Homo sapiens: one gene and its partners. The protein of the gene in region 1 purifies or fractionates together with the protein of each later gene. This does not show direct contact. Each region holds a gene or a part of one and is shown in the gene's direction. Other genes may lie near its edges. The genes, in order: NLE1, MTHFD1, RRP1B, SPAG7 and HNRNPH3.

The links.
Region 2: the proteins of NLE1 (region 1) and MTHFD1 fractionate together in Homo sapiens (co-fractionation; one large-scale study listed by BioGRID). This does not show direct contact.
Region 3: the proteins of NLE1 (region 1) and RRP1B purify together in Homo sapiens (co-immunoprecipitation; one large-scale study listed by IntAct). This does not show direct contact.
Region 4: the proteins of NLE1 (region 1) and SPAG7 fractionate together in Homo sapiens (co-fractionation; one large-scale study listed by BioGRID). This does not show direct contact.
Region 5: the proteins of NLE1 (region 1) and HNRNPH3 fractionate together in Homo sapiens (co-fractionation; one large-scale study listed by BioGRID). This does not show direct contact.

What each region holds. Positions count from the first base shown.
Region 1 is NC_000017.11:35,135,798-35,139,322, reverse strand, and holds part of NLE1 (notchless protein homolog 1), read left to right. Parts: intron 1-8; coding exon 9-88; intron 89-1,432; coding exon 1,433-1,509; intron 1,510-1,682; coding exon 1,683-1,780; intron 1,781-2,129; coding exon 2,130-2,322; intron 2,323-2,825; coding exon 2,826-2,961; intron 2,962-3,107; coding exon 3,108-3,154; intron 3,155-3,525. UniProt on the Homo sapiens protein: Plays a role in regulating Notch activity. Plays a role in regulating the expression of CDKN1A and several members of the Wnt pathway, probably via its effects on Notch activity. Required during embryogenesis for inner mass cell survival.
Region 2 is NC_000014.9:64,454,348-64,457,458, forward strand, and holds part of MTHFD1 (C-1-tetrahydrofolate synthase, cytoplasmic), read left to right. Parts: intron 1-375; coding exon 376-528; intron 529-3,111. UniProt on the Homo sapiens protein: Trifunctional enzyme that catalyzes the interconversion of three forms of one-carbon-substituted tetrahydrofolate: (6R)-5,10-methylene-5,6,7,8-tetrahydrofolate, 5,10-methenyltetrahydrofolate and (6S)-10-formyltetrahydrofolate.
Region 3 is NC_000021.9:43,690,547-43,693,581, forward strand, and holds part of RRP1B (ribosomal RNA processing protein 1 homolog B), read left to right. Parts: intron 1-892; coding exon 893-956; intron 957-2,643; coding exon 2,644-2,837; 3' UTR 2,838-3,035. UniProt on the Homo sapiens protein: Positively regulates DNA damage-induced apoptosis by acting as a transcriptional coactivator of proapoptotic target genes of the transcriptional activator E2F1.
Region 4 is NC_000017.11:4,961,766-4,964,836, reverse strand, and holds part of SPAG7 (sperm-associated antigen 7), read left to right. Parts: intron 1-3,071.
Region 5 is NC_000010.11:68,330,739-68,334,863, forward strand, and holds the start of HNRNPH3 (heterogeneous nuclear ribonucleoprotein H3), read left to right. Parts: upstream 1-1,325; 5' UTR 1,326-1,478; exon of another isoform or gene 1,479-1,497; intron 1,498-2,045; exon of another isoform or gene 2,046-2,364; intron 2,365-4,125.

The sequences.
Region 1 (3,525 bases):
TTCCCCAGGTACCTGGCCAGTGGCTCTGGAGACACCACCGTGCGCTTCTGGGATCTCAGCACAGAGACACCACATTTCACATGCAAGGGTCAGTATGCAATTAGCCATTTAGGGGGTCTTCTTTTTTTTTGAGACAAGGTCTTGCTCTGTTGACCAGGATGGAGTACAGTGGTGCAGTCACAGCTCACTTGAACTCCTGGGCTCAAGCCTTGAACTCCTGGGTTCAAGCAGTCCCCCTACTTCAGCCTCCAGAGTAGCTGGGATGACAGGCACTTGCCATCACACCTGGCTCGTTTTTTGTTTTCATACAGATGAGGGTCTCACTTTGCAGATTACAACCCCTTAATATCCAGTTGGCGGCTGTCTGTTCCTAGGTAGAGACCATGTCCTTGAGCCCAGCCAGCCACTTAGACACAAGCAGAAACTGCACCAAGGAGTCAATATGGGACATGGTGAGAGGCTGACTGACTGCTACCAAGGAGAACCTGGTTTAAATCCTGCCTCTGCCACAGTGGTTTTCAAACTTGAGCACAAATCAGAATTGCCCCGCCTCAGGGGCTTGTTAAAATGCAGATTGCTGGCCAGGCGTGGTGGCCCACACCTGTAATCCCAGCACTTCGGGAGGCCAAGGCAGGCAGATCACTTGAGGTCAGGAGTTTGAGACCAGCCTCGCCAACACAGTGAAACCCCATCTCTACTAAAACTACAAAAATTAGCCGGGCATGGTGGCGTGTGCTTGTAATCCCAGCCACTGGGGAGGCTGAGGCAGAAGAATTGCTCGAATCTAGGAGGCGGAGGTTGCAGTGAGCCGAGATGGCACCACTGCACTCCAGCCTGGGTGATGGAGTGTGACTCCATGAAAGAAAGAGAGAGAGAGAAAAGAGAAGAGAGAAAAAAATACAGATTGCTGGGCCCCACCCCCAGAGGTTTAGTTCTATTGGGCCTGGGGTAGGGCCTGGGAATCTGCATTTCTAACAAGTTCCCAGGAGATGCTGATGCTGCTGCTCTGACGACCACACTTGAAGAACCACTGCTATACCACAGATTAGTTAAGTGACCTTGTGTGTGTAGGGCATGTTCCCTTTCTAAGCTTCAATTTTCTCATCTGGAAAATGGGGATGATAATTCTTGCTTTGCTCCATAGCTTAGAGCTCTTGTGAGAAATAACAAGGGATGACATGTACAAAAACACTTCATAGCATGTGTCACATAAGGAGTCATTAGAGAGTGATGGTGTTATCCATGCAGCAAGATGCAGAGCTCTAACACTTGGGGTGCATTCTATCCATCCCCAGAAAGCCTCATCGCTCCTTTTGTTCAATCATTCATTTATTCAAATGGTTAAGGAGTACCTGGCACCTGACAGGCACTGCTGGGCACTTGGGATAAAGACAGATGTAGTCCCTTATTTCTCCCTCCTCTGCTTTCTTAGGACACAGACACTGGGTCCTTAGTATATCCTGGTCTCCAGATGGCAGGAAGCTGGCCTCAGGCTGCAAGAATGGCCAGGTAGGTAGTTCTCAGGGTAACTAGGCAGAGACTCAAGGGGGCCTTCCTAGGAGACAGTTCAGAATCAGGTTCAGGAGTCTTTGGGGAGGGTTGGGTGGGAAGTGGTAGGCAGGGATTTTGGTGGAGCCAGAGACCTGTTGGGGAGGATTATTCAGTGAGCTTCTGTCCTTCAGATTCTCCTCTGGGACCCAAGCACAGGGAAGCAGGTGGGCAGGACCCTCGCTGGCCACAGCAAGTGGATCACAGGCCTGAGCTGGGAGCCCCTCCATGCGTAAGTGACACTGACGGAGCTGGGACAAATGAGCCAGGGGATCAAAGCCATCCCCTTTCCCTGCCCAATGCATAGAAGTTTTACGTGAGGGGACAAGATGGGCAGCCTGAATGACCGTGATGGCTTGGCAGGCATGGGAGAAGGGTCTCGGGCAGACCTGCATTGCTGCTTGGGAGAGGCTCTCATCACAGGGTCTGCTGGTTGCAGTCACCTTGCAGTGCAGCCGGGTCTTGGTGTCAGAAAAGCTGTCAAAAGATTGTCCATGGCCTTTAAGTTGGGAATGGGGAGGTGCCATGGGCACACAGATGTTGCCAGGTCACAGATGAGGTCACATCTCCCTTCTCTCCAGGAACCCTGAGTGCCGCTATGTGGCCAGCAGCTCCAAGGATGGCAGTGTGCGGATCTGGGACACAACTGCAGGCCGCTGTGAGCGCATCCTCACCGGGCACACCCAGTCGGTCACCTGTCTCCGGTGGGGAGGGGACGGGCTTCTCTACTCTGCCTCCCAGGACCGCACCATCAAAGTCTGGAGAGCTCATGACGTAAGTGCTGGGAGGGTTCAGAAACCAGTCCAGAAAATCGCAAGTCACAAGATGCTGGCACTCAGAATGACCTTGACATCAGCGAGTCCAGTGTTTCCCAGATGTGTGCTGGGAGCCCTGGTCTAGGGAGGTGTTTTGGGAATGAGGAGTTCTGTGGTTGGTGCTGCACCATAGTGGAGATTGCAGAGTCCCCATGAGATCGTCACACTCTGGAAATTCCTCCTGTAGGACAGCTGTTGGGCTTTATCAGATCTACCATATCCCAAATGTATTGGACAGGAGCCGTTTACTCTGACATCCCTAACTCCTCTTCCATGAAACATTTTCATGATCTGGACTCCATTTTACAAGTGGGGAGAGACTTGACCCCAGAGGGGTAGTTTGATTAAGATCACAATGCATGAGTGATGATGATTATTAGTCTTGTACCACCTGTCTCCTGGGGCTAATCGCCCAGGCGTGGGGAGGAGTGTGTGTGTCTGACCTGACTCGCTCTCCCGTAGGGTGTGCTGTGCCGGACTCTGCAAGGCCACGGCCACTGGGTGAACACCATGGCCCTCAGCACTGACTATGCCCTGCGCACTGGGGCCTTTGAACCTGCTGAGGCCTCAGTTAATCCCCAAGACCTCCAAGGATCCTGTGAGTGATTGGGAGAAGGAAGAGCGGGGGCTGATTGGGAAGGAGCCAGTTCTCAAGCTTAATGGGGAGTGTTTGCTCTTTGTGTTGGATTTTCTTATCGGCCTTCTTCCTCATCTCCTTTTCTCCCCTCCGGTACCTGGTCACAGTGCAGGAGTTGAAGGAGAGGGCTCTGAGCCGATACAACCTCGTGCGGGTGAGTGTGTGCCAGCCACGTGCACCCCTAGCTCTGTACCAGTCCTTAGCCAATCACTAAAACCCTCTCAGACCCTTCTCCCTTCTAGACCCAGCTCAGAATGTACCTATTCCAAAAAGTTGTTCTTCATAATCCTAGTTTGCAATCCTAAAATACTAATGTGCTAGAGATCATTTTATTTCGTTTTTTGTTTAGTTTATTTGCTTGTCTATTTATTACATTTCCAACATGCTTCTTTTTTACTTTAATTTGTTGTTTAAGATTGTTCACACATTCACGTTCAAAAAATACAAAAGGTAGATCGCGGAGTCTCCCGTCTCTATTGTAGCATCCAGTGCCACCAGTATCCTGAATCACCTTCCAGAGATTTA
Region 2 (3,111 bases), on another chromosome or scaffold:
AGCAGTCCACCCATCTCAGTCTCCCAAAGTGCTGGAATTTATAGGCATGAACCACTGCACCTGACCCTCTCCAATTTTATTCTCATATCTACTCCAAACTATTATTTTAAATTAGTTTTATGTTATTTCCATAGATGGAAATAAAATATTCACTTGTGGACTACAGTTGTGAGTACCTAACTCCCTCACCCAACAGTTCTTTTTTTTTTTTTTTGGCTTAATAAATAAGCTGGAGGACAGCAAGATAGAGATGTATATAAAGGGAGTTGGATGTTTCGAATAAATTGAAGAATCCATGTAATCACAGGGCCCAGATGGTCATTGCTGGGTTGTCATCTTTTCATTTGTCCTCCCTCTCTTCCCTTCTTTCCCCAGGGCTTTGGGAATCTCCCCATCTGCATGGCTAAAACACACTTGTCTTTGTCTCACAACCCAGAGCAAAAAGGTGTCCCTACAGGCTTCATTCTGCCCATTCGCGACATCCGCGCCAGCGTTGGGGCTGGTTTTCTGTACCCCTTAGTAGGAACGGTAAGTGCATGCTGCAAGGGAGTAGTGGGCGCATCTGCACTTCTCGTCTGAAGTGTGTTGCCGAAACCATCAAGCAAATGCCAAGTGAGCAGAGTTCACTGCCCAGAAGAAAATTGGAATCGGGCCTATTATGATTGCTGTGGATCATAAGCTATAAAGCAGGAGCTATATAGCTCTTGCTGTGGACCATCTTGGTGTCAAATCAAGAATGATGCCAGGACTACTCATACTGAATAAAAAATTCTGTTTCCCAGGGACAGTATGCTCTTCACTGAATCTAGGATGAGCCCAGTTGATAGGCTGGGGTAGTGCTAACATAATCACAGTTAATGTTTATTGGGAGCCTTACATAGATTAACTCAGTCCCCCCACAGCCCTAGGAGGTAGGGACAGAGGTTTTACTGACAGGCCTAGAACTTACGTCTGAAATTCAGGGGGTTCATTATTTTTAAGTAAGGAATTTCCCCATTAAAAAATGCAAATGGACCCTTGAGATATGAAAGGTGAGGTTGCTTATTTACGCTTCAAGGTGAACAAGGTGTCCATTGCTTTCTTATCTTACAGATTTTATGCATATTCAAAGAAGAATATTGCCAGTTGGGAAGCAGAGGGGAGGGATGCTTAAGGACATAATCATAGTTTGGGCTGACATTGTTCCAAGGTTAACTTGGATCCTGAATCTAGGTTATCCCCTAAATCTGCCCTGTATCCTGTATCTACAGATTGTACTGCCATGCAATACAGGACTGAAATATTAAACTAAATCAACACACATGGAAAAGAAACCAACATACATCCTTTTGGATTTATGTCATTCTTTCAGTATAGTAAGAAAGTGGTAGGAGGTGGCATTATAGAGTTGAAAACGTAGGACATTAGAGCTGAATTCATTTTCACCTCTTCAGATCTTGGCCTTGGGCAAATTATGAAAGGTGAGAGCCCTGCTGCCCTCAGCTCACACTGTAGGCAACATCATCACATCACAGTGGTGCTTAGCACAAATGCCTGCATCTCACTGCCTCCTTAGCTCTCTATAGAGAGCAGAAGGCTTAGACTTGCTATGATGTACATCAGTCTCCAGGATTTGTAGAAATCCCTTGTGGTAGGAATTTTCCACCATTTTTACCCAGCACCTTGAATAGTGCAGAAATATGTGTTGTTCTTTTTGGAGAAGTTGTCAGCAGCTACCAGCTGAAAGACGGGTAGCTGTACTCTTTCTTGTCACTTTTGATCTTCACATGAAGAAAAGGGTAACAGTAGAGGTGAAAGCAAATCTGGAAGCAGTCAGGCCAGTGAGAGTCAGGCTGTAAGGTGGAGAGAGACACAGCCTGCCGAACTCAAGACTTTCTCATTTAGAACAAAGTATGTGTCAGAGGCTTTTAACTTTAAGTTGGACCAAGGCGTTTCCACACATGATCAAATGGTTTAATCACTATTCTAACACCTTCCAGTTGCCGTTGGGGCCTTAACGAGACTCAGATTATTTGAATATTTTCTATATTAATTCAAAGTGTGATGGCTTATTTTCAGAACTTTATATCTAGGTTCATACATGTGCGTACACATAATATTGTCTTTTTTTGTATTTTTTCTGATTATCAGTGACCAGTGTTTAGGAGGGAAAATCCTCTTGGGGAATGAGTGAAAATATCAAAAATCCTACTCATCACTGTTTAGGGAACCATCTTTAGGGTTTTCTGCTGACATGCACATGCCCGTCTACAACAATGGGCATGTGTCTTTTATCTTTATAATGTCATCTTCCGGTTTTTCTGCTGTGTCTAAGGACCCATCCTTTCCTCTCTCCTACTTGTCTCACACCTAGCACCTCCTTACCTCTTACACAATATAAGAATATAAACCAGTTGTCAGATCCCTATAATGTGTTTTGGGGAATATTGATTGGTACTCAGAAGTCAGTCAGAATGAGGTTTTCTAAAGTATTGATGATGTTTTGTGTTACAGAAGATGACTCTTTTTAAATAACCTTTTTATAGTTAAGTTTTAGAAGTAACCTAAGCTGTTTTCCTGTCTAGATTTGATTTGGAACTTGTGTGTATTCATTATATAGGACATTGTTACAGATAAAAATATACGGAGTTTTCACTTGCAAGCCGTACATATTTGCATCTAAGTAGAAATTTGTCAAAGCCGAGTCTTTAGAAAAGTAGTGAGTACAAATATAATTTGTAAGCATTACAAGTTTAGTTTTAGAAGGCCATTTTGGGCCAGTAAGAATGGTGATTATAAAACCATCTAGATTATGTACAAAAGTGTCTTGGCCCAAGTTAAAGGATACTAACTCCTACCATCGTGTTGCTGAAGCAAAAATCACATGGGCAGCTCAGCTAGCAAGACTGAACGAAACAAAATTTAAAAGCAGGCAAGCCCTGTACCTCCTTTTGGTCTTGCAAAGCGTGAGCTGAGGAGGCGAGTGAGCAACTCCTCTACTCCCCAGCACTCATTCTTGTAAGGTGAAGGTGGAAACACCTCCTGCTACTGCTTGTGACCACATGGAAGATGATAGTGAAGGCTGGCATTTGGTTTGCAGAAGGACATGAGGAATCAGTTTCTTTTCTTTTC
Region 3 (3,035 bases), on another chromosome or scaffold:
CTGAGCCTGTCCACAGTGGACAGGTTCCACGGCCAGGGTAGCATAAGGTCTGAGTGGTCTGGGACCCACCCTGAGGGATCACAGTCAGGAAGGGGACTTTGAGGGGCGGTTGATCCACACATTCTGCCTCCCAGGGCTTCCGGCTCAGGGTTTGCAGAAACCAGTTTTCTCTCGTGAAATGTCACAGTGTTAAACACAAGTGGTGCAAGTCAGCAGTAGGAGGTCCACACAGAAATGTGGGTCAGAGCAGGAACTTGAGGCAGTGCTTCCTGATGCAGGCTGGATCCACTTCCAGGAATGTAAGTAGGAAAGAAGATAGTTGATTGTGGTGAACTGTTGGGATATGCAGATAGCTCAGAGTCCTTGTGCACAAAAAGCTGGAAACTGTGTGTCCATTGTCCATTGCAGTGAGATTCCATCATAGGCATCGTCTCATCGATGTCATAGAGTCTTCAAGTTAGAAGTTCAGAACTCTCCAGCAAAAGGCAGGGGAGTCTTGGCATTTTTCCTCACGGGTTCTCAGTGGTGAACTGTTTTTAGGACAGTTCAGGCATCCTCTCTGTTTGCCTTTCTTCCCTGGATCGTAGAACCCTGCAGCGGTAATGAGGCAGTGACCGCAGATGGGCCAAGAGTGTGGGCACCACTGACCCTGGGCTGGGGGGTTGCGTGTGTGGGACGCTGGGAAGGACAAAGGGCGGTCCTGGTGAAGCCCCGACAGGAGGGTCGGTTTCAGTCTTGGCCGCAGTCCCTTTGGCCTCTCCCTATATGTGCCACTCAGTAAGCAGCAGTGTGGGCGGCATACCCTCCAGGGCAGGTTCTCCAGAAAAATCTGACTAAGCGCCTCCACTGCACTTGCGTCACTCCTTTTGTTCCTGTTATTTCTCTTCTGCAGCTAAACAAGACACCATCCAGCTCCAAGAAAGTCACCTTTGGGCTGAACAGAAACATGACTGCCGGTAAGTGGGGTTTTGCCAGCGGCAAGCTTCTCTGGAGCACAGCTGCAGCTCCTGGCGCGGCTCGCAGCCTGGTTCCACAAGGCGGTCGGGGAAGAGGGGGGTCCTAGCTCCTCACTGCCCATTTCTTTATTTTTATTTTTTTTTTTTTTTTGAGACAGAGTCTCGCTGCTCTGTCACCCAGGCTGCAGTGCAGTGGCGAGATCTTGGCTCACTGCAACCTCCGCCCCCCCAGGTTCAAGCGATTCTCCTGCCTCAGGCTGCCGGGTAGCGGGTAGCTGGGATCACAGGTGCACGCCATCACATCCAGCTAATTTTTGTATTTTTAGTAAAGATGGAGTTTCACCATGTCAGCCAGGCTGGTCTCAAACTCCTGACCTCAGGTGATCTGCCTGCCTCGGCCTCCCAAAGATCTGGGATTACAAGCGTGAGCCACCGAGCCCGGCCCCTCACTGCCCATTTCTGAGTCAGAAGGAAGCACCTATGTGTCTGTCCCTCATCCTCAAAGGGCTGTGAGTGGGGTGCCAGTGGTGAGTGGGCAGCCAATTGCCTGGGACCTGTTAAGAGAAGCTACCTGGTGAGACGTGATCCAAAAAGCCGTTTTCCCAAGTGTCTTTCTAAATACTGAAAGCCGTCCCATAGAGAGGCCATTTGAGATCGTAGTGCTCCATCAGCTGTAGCTGTCTCTCTGCGAAACTTCGGAACCACTTGCTTCTTGGGCGACAGAGAAGGGTAACCCCTATCTTCCTACTTTTCATATTGGTGCCATCCATTCGAGTTGCTTTTACAAAGGAAACCAAAGTTTTAAAAAGTAGTATAGGCCAGGCGCGGTGGCTCATGCCTGTAATCCCAACACTTTGGGAGGCCAAGGTGGGCAGATCATGAGGTCAGGAGTTCGAGACCAGCCTGGCCAACATGGTAAAACCCCGTCTCTACTAAAAATACAAAAATTACCTGGGCGTAGTGGCAAGCACCTGTAGTCTCAGCTGCTCGAGAGGCTGAGGCAGGAGAATTGCTTGAACCCAGGAGATGGAGGTTGCAGTGAGCCAAGATCGTTTCACTGCACTCCAGCCTGGGTGACAGGCTGGGTGAGACTCCATCTCAAAAAAAAAAAAAAAGTATTATAACGAATTTAGGACCTGACTCTTGTTGGGAACTGCAAGTAATAGAGAGTATGTGTATGTGTGAGTGTGTGTACATGCACCAGTATATATGTGTGTGTGCGTGTGCATGCACACATGCGTGAGTGTGTATGTTTAGGGAGAAGAGACTCTGAGAGACTGAGGAGCTCACCCAGCCTTTACAACTGGAGAAAATGAACAGTACGAATCCTGCAGCTCCACATAGCACAGATTTGTCCCAGACACAAATGCCTGGTTCACTCATTGTCCAAAACACCCCCACCCCCAATGTTCACCCTTCCAGGAGCCACCCTACCAGCAGCTCCCCTTAGTCTGTGCAGGCAGCCCTGGGCCCTCCCTTGGGAGGGTGAGTTGAGGCATGGGATGTGGCCTCACTGCCCTCCTTTCCTCAGAAGGCTCTTGGGCCTGCTCTCTGCAGGGCCTTGAGATGGCCCTGCTTCGTCCTAGCAAGTGGGTGGGGTCGGCACCCAGGCAGGACGCTGTCTAAGGTGTTGAAGGGACAGCTGTCGGACCCACTTAATATGGGGCCTTGCTCTCATTTGGGACAGAATTCAAGAAGACAGACAAGAGTATCTTGGTCAGTCCCACGGGCCCTTCTCGAGTGGCCTTCGACCCTGAACAGAAGCCCCTCCACGGGGTGCTGAAGACCCCCACCAGCTCACCTGCCAGCTCACCCCTGGTGGCCAAGAAGCCCCTGACCACCACACCAAGGAGAAGGCCCAGGGCTATGGATTTCTTCTGAGGAGCAGCAGAGTCCCTTGTAAAAGACTGCTTTTGTACAGAATGCGCTATAAATTATACCTTTAAGAATGTGGGGCCTTTTTTATGATTTTGTAAGTTCCCATAAGTTGTGTGCACGAGGTTCTGAGAGTGCCCGCAGGCTGCTGCGTCCTGGCCCCTCTGTAGTGGCTGCGGGCGTCTTGGTTGAATCTTTTGCTAC
Region 4 (3,071 bases), about 30 Mb from region 1:
TGGAACCCGGGAGGCAGAGGTTGCAGTGAGCCGAGATCGCGCCACTGCACTCCAGCCTGGGCACACAGCGAGACTCTGTCTCGAAATAAATAAATAAATGATGGGGAGAGGTTCAGTGCAGCTGGAGAGGATTCAGATCCTGGGGAAGAAGGAGGCCTTAAAGATGTAAAGGATTTGGCCGGGTGCGGTGGCTCACGCCTATAATCCCAGCACTTTGGGAGGCCGAGGCGGGTGGATCATGAGGTCAGGAGATCAAGACCATCCTGGCTAAAACGGTGAAACCTTGTCTCCACTAAAAATACAAAAAATTCTCCAGGCGTGGTGGCGGGCGCCTGTAGTCCCAGCTACTTGGGAGGCTGAGGCAGGAGAATGGCGTGAACCCGGGAGGCGGAGCTTGCAGTGAGCGGAGATTGCGCCACTGCACTCCAGCCTGGGCGACAGAGCGAGACTCCGTCTCAAAAAAAAAAAAAAAAAAAAAAGATGTAAAGGATTTGAAATGGCAAAAGAGAAAAAAATTTCAGGCTGAGGAGCAGGAGTAGGAAGAAGCATGCACCCAAATCTCTAGAGGTAGTAAAATCACATCGTGGGGAAGACAGGCAAGCATGGAGGGCCCGGGTTAGAAATTCTTCCTCCTCCTCCAGAGGCAGAGGGGATCTGGCGCAGAGGCAGGATCTAAGGAAGAGGAAGAAAGTTAAATAAGACCCTTAGCCAGGCGAGGGGACTCACAGCTGAAATCCCAGCACTTTGGGAGGCTGGTCTTGAACTCCCAGCCTCAAGTGATCCTCCCACCTCGGCCTCTCAAATTGCTTGAGAAGCTTGAGTCTCTGCACCCAGACCTGGCTAATTTTTTTAAAAAAAGTTTTCTGTAAAGATGGGGTCTCGGGCATCTTCAGGCAAGAGGCAGGCAGATACCTTGAGCCCAAGAGTTCAGAAAAAGAAGACCCTTCACAGCTAACCTTGGACACCTACACTCCCAAAGGAGAAGGGTGTCAGATTATCTATTTCAGCTTCATCCTGTCTATAGAAGTGGGAAGTGGGGGATTTTACAAAATATAGAAAGTTAAATAATTTCCCCTTTCCAGCTGGGCACGGTGGCTCAAGCCTGTAATCCTGGCACTTTGGGAGGCCGAGGCAGGTGGATCACAAGGTCAGGAGTTCGAGACCAGCCTGGCCAATATGGTGAAACCCCATCTCTACTAAAAATACAAAAATTAGCTGGGCGTGGTGGCACATGCCTATAGTCCCAGCTACTCAGGAGGCTGAGGCAGAAGAATCGCTTGAACCCAGGAGGCGGAGGTTGCAGTGAGCCAAGATCGTGCCACTGCACTCCAGCCTGGGCGACAAAGCGAGATTCCATCTCAAAAAAAAAAAAAAAAAAAAAAAAATTCCCCTTTCCTGTGTAAACGAGATGACAGACTCTTTGAGGCCAGGGTCTTAGTCTGTTTTCCTCACCTTCCCAGATGCATTATGGTTTGTTTTTGTTTTTGTTTTTGACAGGGTCTTGCTCTGTCACCTAGACCTCTCAGGCTCAAGTGATCTTCCTACCTCAGCCTCCCGAGTAGCTGGGACTACAGGCATGCATCATCATGCCTAATTCTTTATTTTTTATAGAGACAGGGTCTCACTATATTGCCTGCACTGGTCTGGAGCTCCTGGCCTCAAGCAGTCCTCCCACCTTGGCCTTCCAAAGTACTGGGATTACACACGTAAGCCACCACGCTCAGCCCAAACATTTATTTAATGCCCACAATGTACAAAGAACTAACTATAGTCCAGGCATGGTGGTTCACACCTATAATCCCAGCACTTTGGAAGGTCAAGGTGGGAGGATTACTTGAGGCCAACTGGAGACCAGGATGGGCAACAAACTGAGACCCCATCTTAACAGAAAACTTAAAAAAAAAAAAATTAGCCAAGGCTGGGTGCAGAGGCTCAAGGCTTTCAAGCAATTTGAGAGGCCCAGGTGGGAGGGTTATTTGAAGCCGAGTTCGAGACCAGCCTGGGCCCACACTTGTAATCCTAGCACTTTGGGAGGCTGAGGCGGGCGGATCACGAGGTCAGGAGTTCGAGACCAACCTGACCAACATAGTGAAACCCCGTCTCTAATAAAAATACAAAAATTAGCTGGGTGCTAATTGCACCCAGCCTGGGTGACAGAGTGAGACTCCGTCTCAAAAATAAAAATAAAATAAAATAAAAATACCATCCTGGGCAACATAGTGAGACCTCATCTCACAAATATTTTTAATTATTTTTTAAACAGTAGCTGAGCATGGTGGCACACGCCTGTGGTCCCAGCTACTTGAGAAGCTAAGGTAGGAGGATCCCTTGAGCCAGGGAGGTCAAGGCTGCAGTGAGCTGTGATTGTGCCACTGCACGCCAGCCTAGGCAATAAAGTGATATCCTGTCCCAAAAATAAATAGGCCGGGTGCAGTGGCTCACGCCTATAATTCCAGCACTTTTGGGAAGGTGAGGCGGGGGGATCACTTGAGCTCAGGAGTTCAAGACCAGCCTGGCCAACATGGTGAAACCCCATCTCTACTAAAAATACAAAAATTAGCCGGGTGTGGTGGCACATGCCTGTAATCCCAGCTACTTGGGAGGCTGAGGCAGGAGAATCGCTTGAACCTGGGAGACGGAGTTTGCAGTGAGCTGAGCTCATGCCACTGCACTCCAGCCTGGGTGACAGAGTGAAACTCCATCTCAAAAATAAATAAATAAATAGATATTTGTTAATTGGTTTCCCCAGTGGAGTTGGGAAAGGGGGTTAAGCATTATTCTGATCTTTGTCACTCCCACTAAACTGGGAGCTCTTGAAGGGCCACATTGTGTCTTAATAATCTCAGTACTTCAGGGTCTCGCCTGGTGCCAGATACAGTAGTCCCTACTTCTCCCTTATCCAAGGTTTTGCTTTCCAAGGTTTTAGTTACCTGCAGTCCAGAACTGTTATATACAGTAAGATATTTTGAGAGAGAGAGAGAGCATAGCCACAAACTTTTATTTCAGTACATTGTTATAATTGTTCTATTGTATTATTGTTATTCTTAATCTCTTTTTTTTTTTTTTTTTTT
Region 5 (4,125 bases), on another chromosome or scaffold:
TGTGTGTGTGTGTGTGTGTATTTTTAGTAGAGACAGGGTTTCACCGTGTTAGCCAGGATGAACTTGCACTGATCTCTTTACCAGGCTTCCCCTTAACCCTCTGCGCAGAAATTCGGGGTTTTTCTTTGTGTTTGAGACAAGAGTCTCCCTCGGTCTCCCAGACTGGAGTGCACTGGCGCAATCACGGCTCACTGCAGCCTCAACTTCCAGGGCACAAGCCATCCTTTTGCCCAGCCTCCTGTGTAGCTGGGACTACTCGGGAGTCCCATCTACTCCCGTGCGCTGCCATCACGCCCAGCTAATCTTTGTATTTTTTGTAGAGACAGCACCTCACTATGTTGCCCAGGCTGGTCTCCAACTCTTACGCTCAAGCGATCCTCCCCCTCGGCCTCTCAAAGGCGTAAGCCACCGCGGCCAGCCTTTTTTGGAACTTAAAAAAAAAGCCATAATGTGTCATTAGGAACCTTGGTGACATGACAGCAAAACCAAAATGTACTTATTTATTAGGTGTCACTTGGAAGCGCAATTTTCAACAACGCAAAACTATAAAAAAAACCCAACGTCGGCCTCCACAGGCTAATCAGTCTCCGAGGCACTGACGGCGGGAGAGATGAAAACGCGAAGGCCAGAGGAGAAAAAGAGGAAGGATTTGCAGAGAGAACGGTAACGTGGTGGACATGAATACACCCAAGAAACCCGGATCCCGCGCGGCACATTGGGACGAAGCGCGCTGGCGGGCGGCCAGCAACTCTGGGCCAGGGGAAGGAGGCGGACACCCAGCCCGAGAGCCGAAATCGGCCCCAGTGGACGCTTTCATCTTCGCGGCCCAGAAACACTCCTATTTTTCACCGCACAATGCAAACATGGTGGACCAGAAAATCCGCCCCGCGTTTGCCGGTCGAACCACGTGGGGCCCTTTCCGCGCCGTCGATGCCTAGCCAGGGCGGGGCCCTCACAGAATTTGTTCACGGTGGGGGCAGATCACCGGAGAACTTCTCCAGAGCGCTACGGCACGGTTCCTTCTACACACTGGCAGAACTGCCATTGCCATCGCCCCGAGGCGGCAGAATGGTACGCTCTGAAAACTGGATGGTTCTAACGTAAGCAAGAAAAACGGTGCGCGCTGCAGCTCTTTAACTGGAACAGCCTCTGCTCGGTCTACCTCGCCCCCAACAGCTGCGCAACCCACCACCGCGCAGGCGCGCTGCGTGCCGCCAGCGCCATGCGAAACCGACTTTCCCGTCTCGCGAGAGTGGGGCCGGCCGCCTTCGCAGTTCTCGCTCCGCCCCCCACTTCTTGCTCGTTCCCTCCCATCCCCCCAAGCCAGTAGCTGTGCTGCGCAGCTCCCTAAGCGGTTGTCACCGCTGGAGACGGTTGGGAGAACCGTTGTGGCGAGCGCTACACGAGGCAAACGACTTCTCCCTTCTTTGAACTGGACCCCGCGAGCACCAGAGTCGGCGTAACTATCGCCTGACAGGGTATCTGAAGTAAAAGGGGGTAGGTTGGGCTGGTGGTTTCGAGAGCGGAGTCGGGAGAAGGACGAAAGGCCGGGAGGGGCTGGGTTGGGGGGTAGTGGGGTGGTCGCCGCTCGGAGGCCGCCGCTTGGAAGCGGCGGGGCTGCGCCTCCCCGACCATCTCCCACTTCAGGGAGGGCGGCTTGCCGATGGGAGGACTTGCTCAGGTGGAATTCAGTGGACGACGCCGAGGCCCGAAGTAGGGGACATCCAGCATTTTCCCCTTTCCCTGCTGGCTTGGCCTCCGCCATTTTGGGTACAGTGGCGCGGCCACCTCGGCTTCCCGCCCTTCCCCGCTCTTTTTACTTTTTTGTTCCCCAGCTTCCGAAAACTGATCTAGAAGGCCAGGGGAGGGGGTGGTCAAAGCTCCCTGGAAGGGATGAGGGTGGGTAGTGAAGCGAGCAGGGAAAGGCCGGGCAGTTGGGTGGAGGGAGGATCGGGTTTGCCGGGCGCGCTCCCGATGGAAATGGCGCCGGATGGGCCTGGCCTCCCACCGCGGCCTCCCTTCCTCCGCAGTCTCGGCAGGGCTACCTGGGCTGACGGGACTGCGAGTGACTTCTGACGCAGATTCCCAAGATGAGAGAGGCTGGAGCTGGGGGAGGAAAGCCAATGGCGACGAAGGTGCTCAACTCCCAAATCCAGGACAAAGGAGGCAGACGGCCTCCTTTGTAATTCTGCCGCCCGGTGGCGAAGGGTTTTAAGCCAGGCTTGGCTGCTGACGGGAGGGGGAAGGGGCGTACTCTCCCTAGCTTTCTGGTCTCTAGGGCAGCTAGATAAACGGAAAGTCTCCTGGGAGGAATAAAGGACGCTTAGCCGGCCCTTATATTCCAGATTTGGAACTTCGAAAAGAGTACGTACTGATTTTCCAAAGGGTTTTTTTTTTTTCATGTTTAAACGTTAATAAGGACTTCGGGGATGATTTTGTGAGCAGAAAAGTGGGTGATTTATCAAATAGGAATGTGAAATGGGCATGTTTCAAGTAGGTCGTCTGGGCCCAGTGAACTATAATTGTTGCTTTTTGAACTTTCGGGGTGGGGGTGGGTGATGTAGCAATTGTTTTGCGTAGTTTGGCGTATATATGTTAGAATTTGTTTTTAAGTTTTACTTTTGGGAAACAGTTAAAACAACCCAGTGATGGTAGATGTGTGTGTATTGAAATTGAGCTTTCGATGTTAAATCTTCCAAGAGTTGTATTTTGTGCAGTTTTTTTTTCCGATGGCATTAAGGCTCTAGAAGTAAAATACTTCAAAATACGGTTATGGTTTATTTTCTTTTGGTAGCTAGGCATGTTTTTTCTTTAGTGTAGGAGTATAGTACACTGTAATCGTATTTTAAACAAGGGAATAAGCCTACTAAACATAAAAACAAATTGTAAACCCAGTCACGTGGTGGTGGTGTGATTCGGATGAGGGTCCTGAGAACTGGATCCGTAATTTTCATTGAAGACAGTACAAAAGGGAGGAGAAAGGCCTGAGAGTAAGAATTTCTGATAATTCATGTAAAACTTTATAAGAATATTGTTACCTACTTTTCCAGCTCTAAAAACAAAAACTTATTATTATTGAAGATGTTCAGTGATGCTTTCTCAAGATTGCCAAGGAAAAGTTTACGAAAATCTTACCTTGAAACAGTAGGTTTGAGTGACCCTTTGAAGAGATAGTCCAGACTGTCCTGTAAAGTTATATATGATATAACAAATAGCTTTACTAATTGGATTGGACTACACATCTTTTTTCTGTCCTCTTTTCATTTGTGCCGTTATCTGGAAATCCATCTAATTGCCTTTTTAAAATAATGTTATCTTTGATTTCCTTGTTTTGGTAAACTGACTGAACTGCAGTAGATAAAAACCTGGTTCTAGTGAACTAACATTTTAGAGACCTTACCTCCTTAAGCTATTAGGGGTGTGTCTAGTTTTTTGTTTTTGTAAAGAGCAAGCCCATTGGGAAGGAATGATGTAAATTTTCTGTTAAACTTAAATCATCAGCACTTTTTCCAAAAAATAAAATTCATTCTCATTTCTTGACCACTGGGCTACCATTTAGAAAGTTATTTATTGATGTAAAATCCTTTATGTATTACTTCAGAAGATAGGCTATGCCTCCGTGTTAAGAGGATTCTCTATTTCATTTGTTCTTTAGTGGATTTTTTTTCTTTAACGACTTTGGTATATAATTCACATACCGTAAACTTCACCAATTTTAAATGTACAGTTTAGTGGATTTTAGTACATTCACAGCGTTGTGTGACCGTCACTACAATTTAATTTTAGAACATTTTTGTCACTCCAAAAAGATATCCATACCCTTTACTGGTCATTCCCATTGCTGGCATCCTCCCTCCCCTCAAGCCTCAGACAATCATGAATAGAAATGGAATCATGCAATATGTAGTCTTTTGTGACTGGCTTGTTTCACTTGGTGTAATGTTTAGAAAATTATACTTAAAGTCTCATAAAACTTGACCAAAGCTATCCTCATATTTTAACTGTGGTATCTTTTATTGGTACTAGCACCTAGAATTCTTAAAGCAGAGTAGTGATTAGCCATGACATTGTTGCAAAGAAAGGTTGAGGTGGATTATCCTGAATAATTAGTAAACTGTTTTAAGT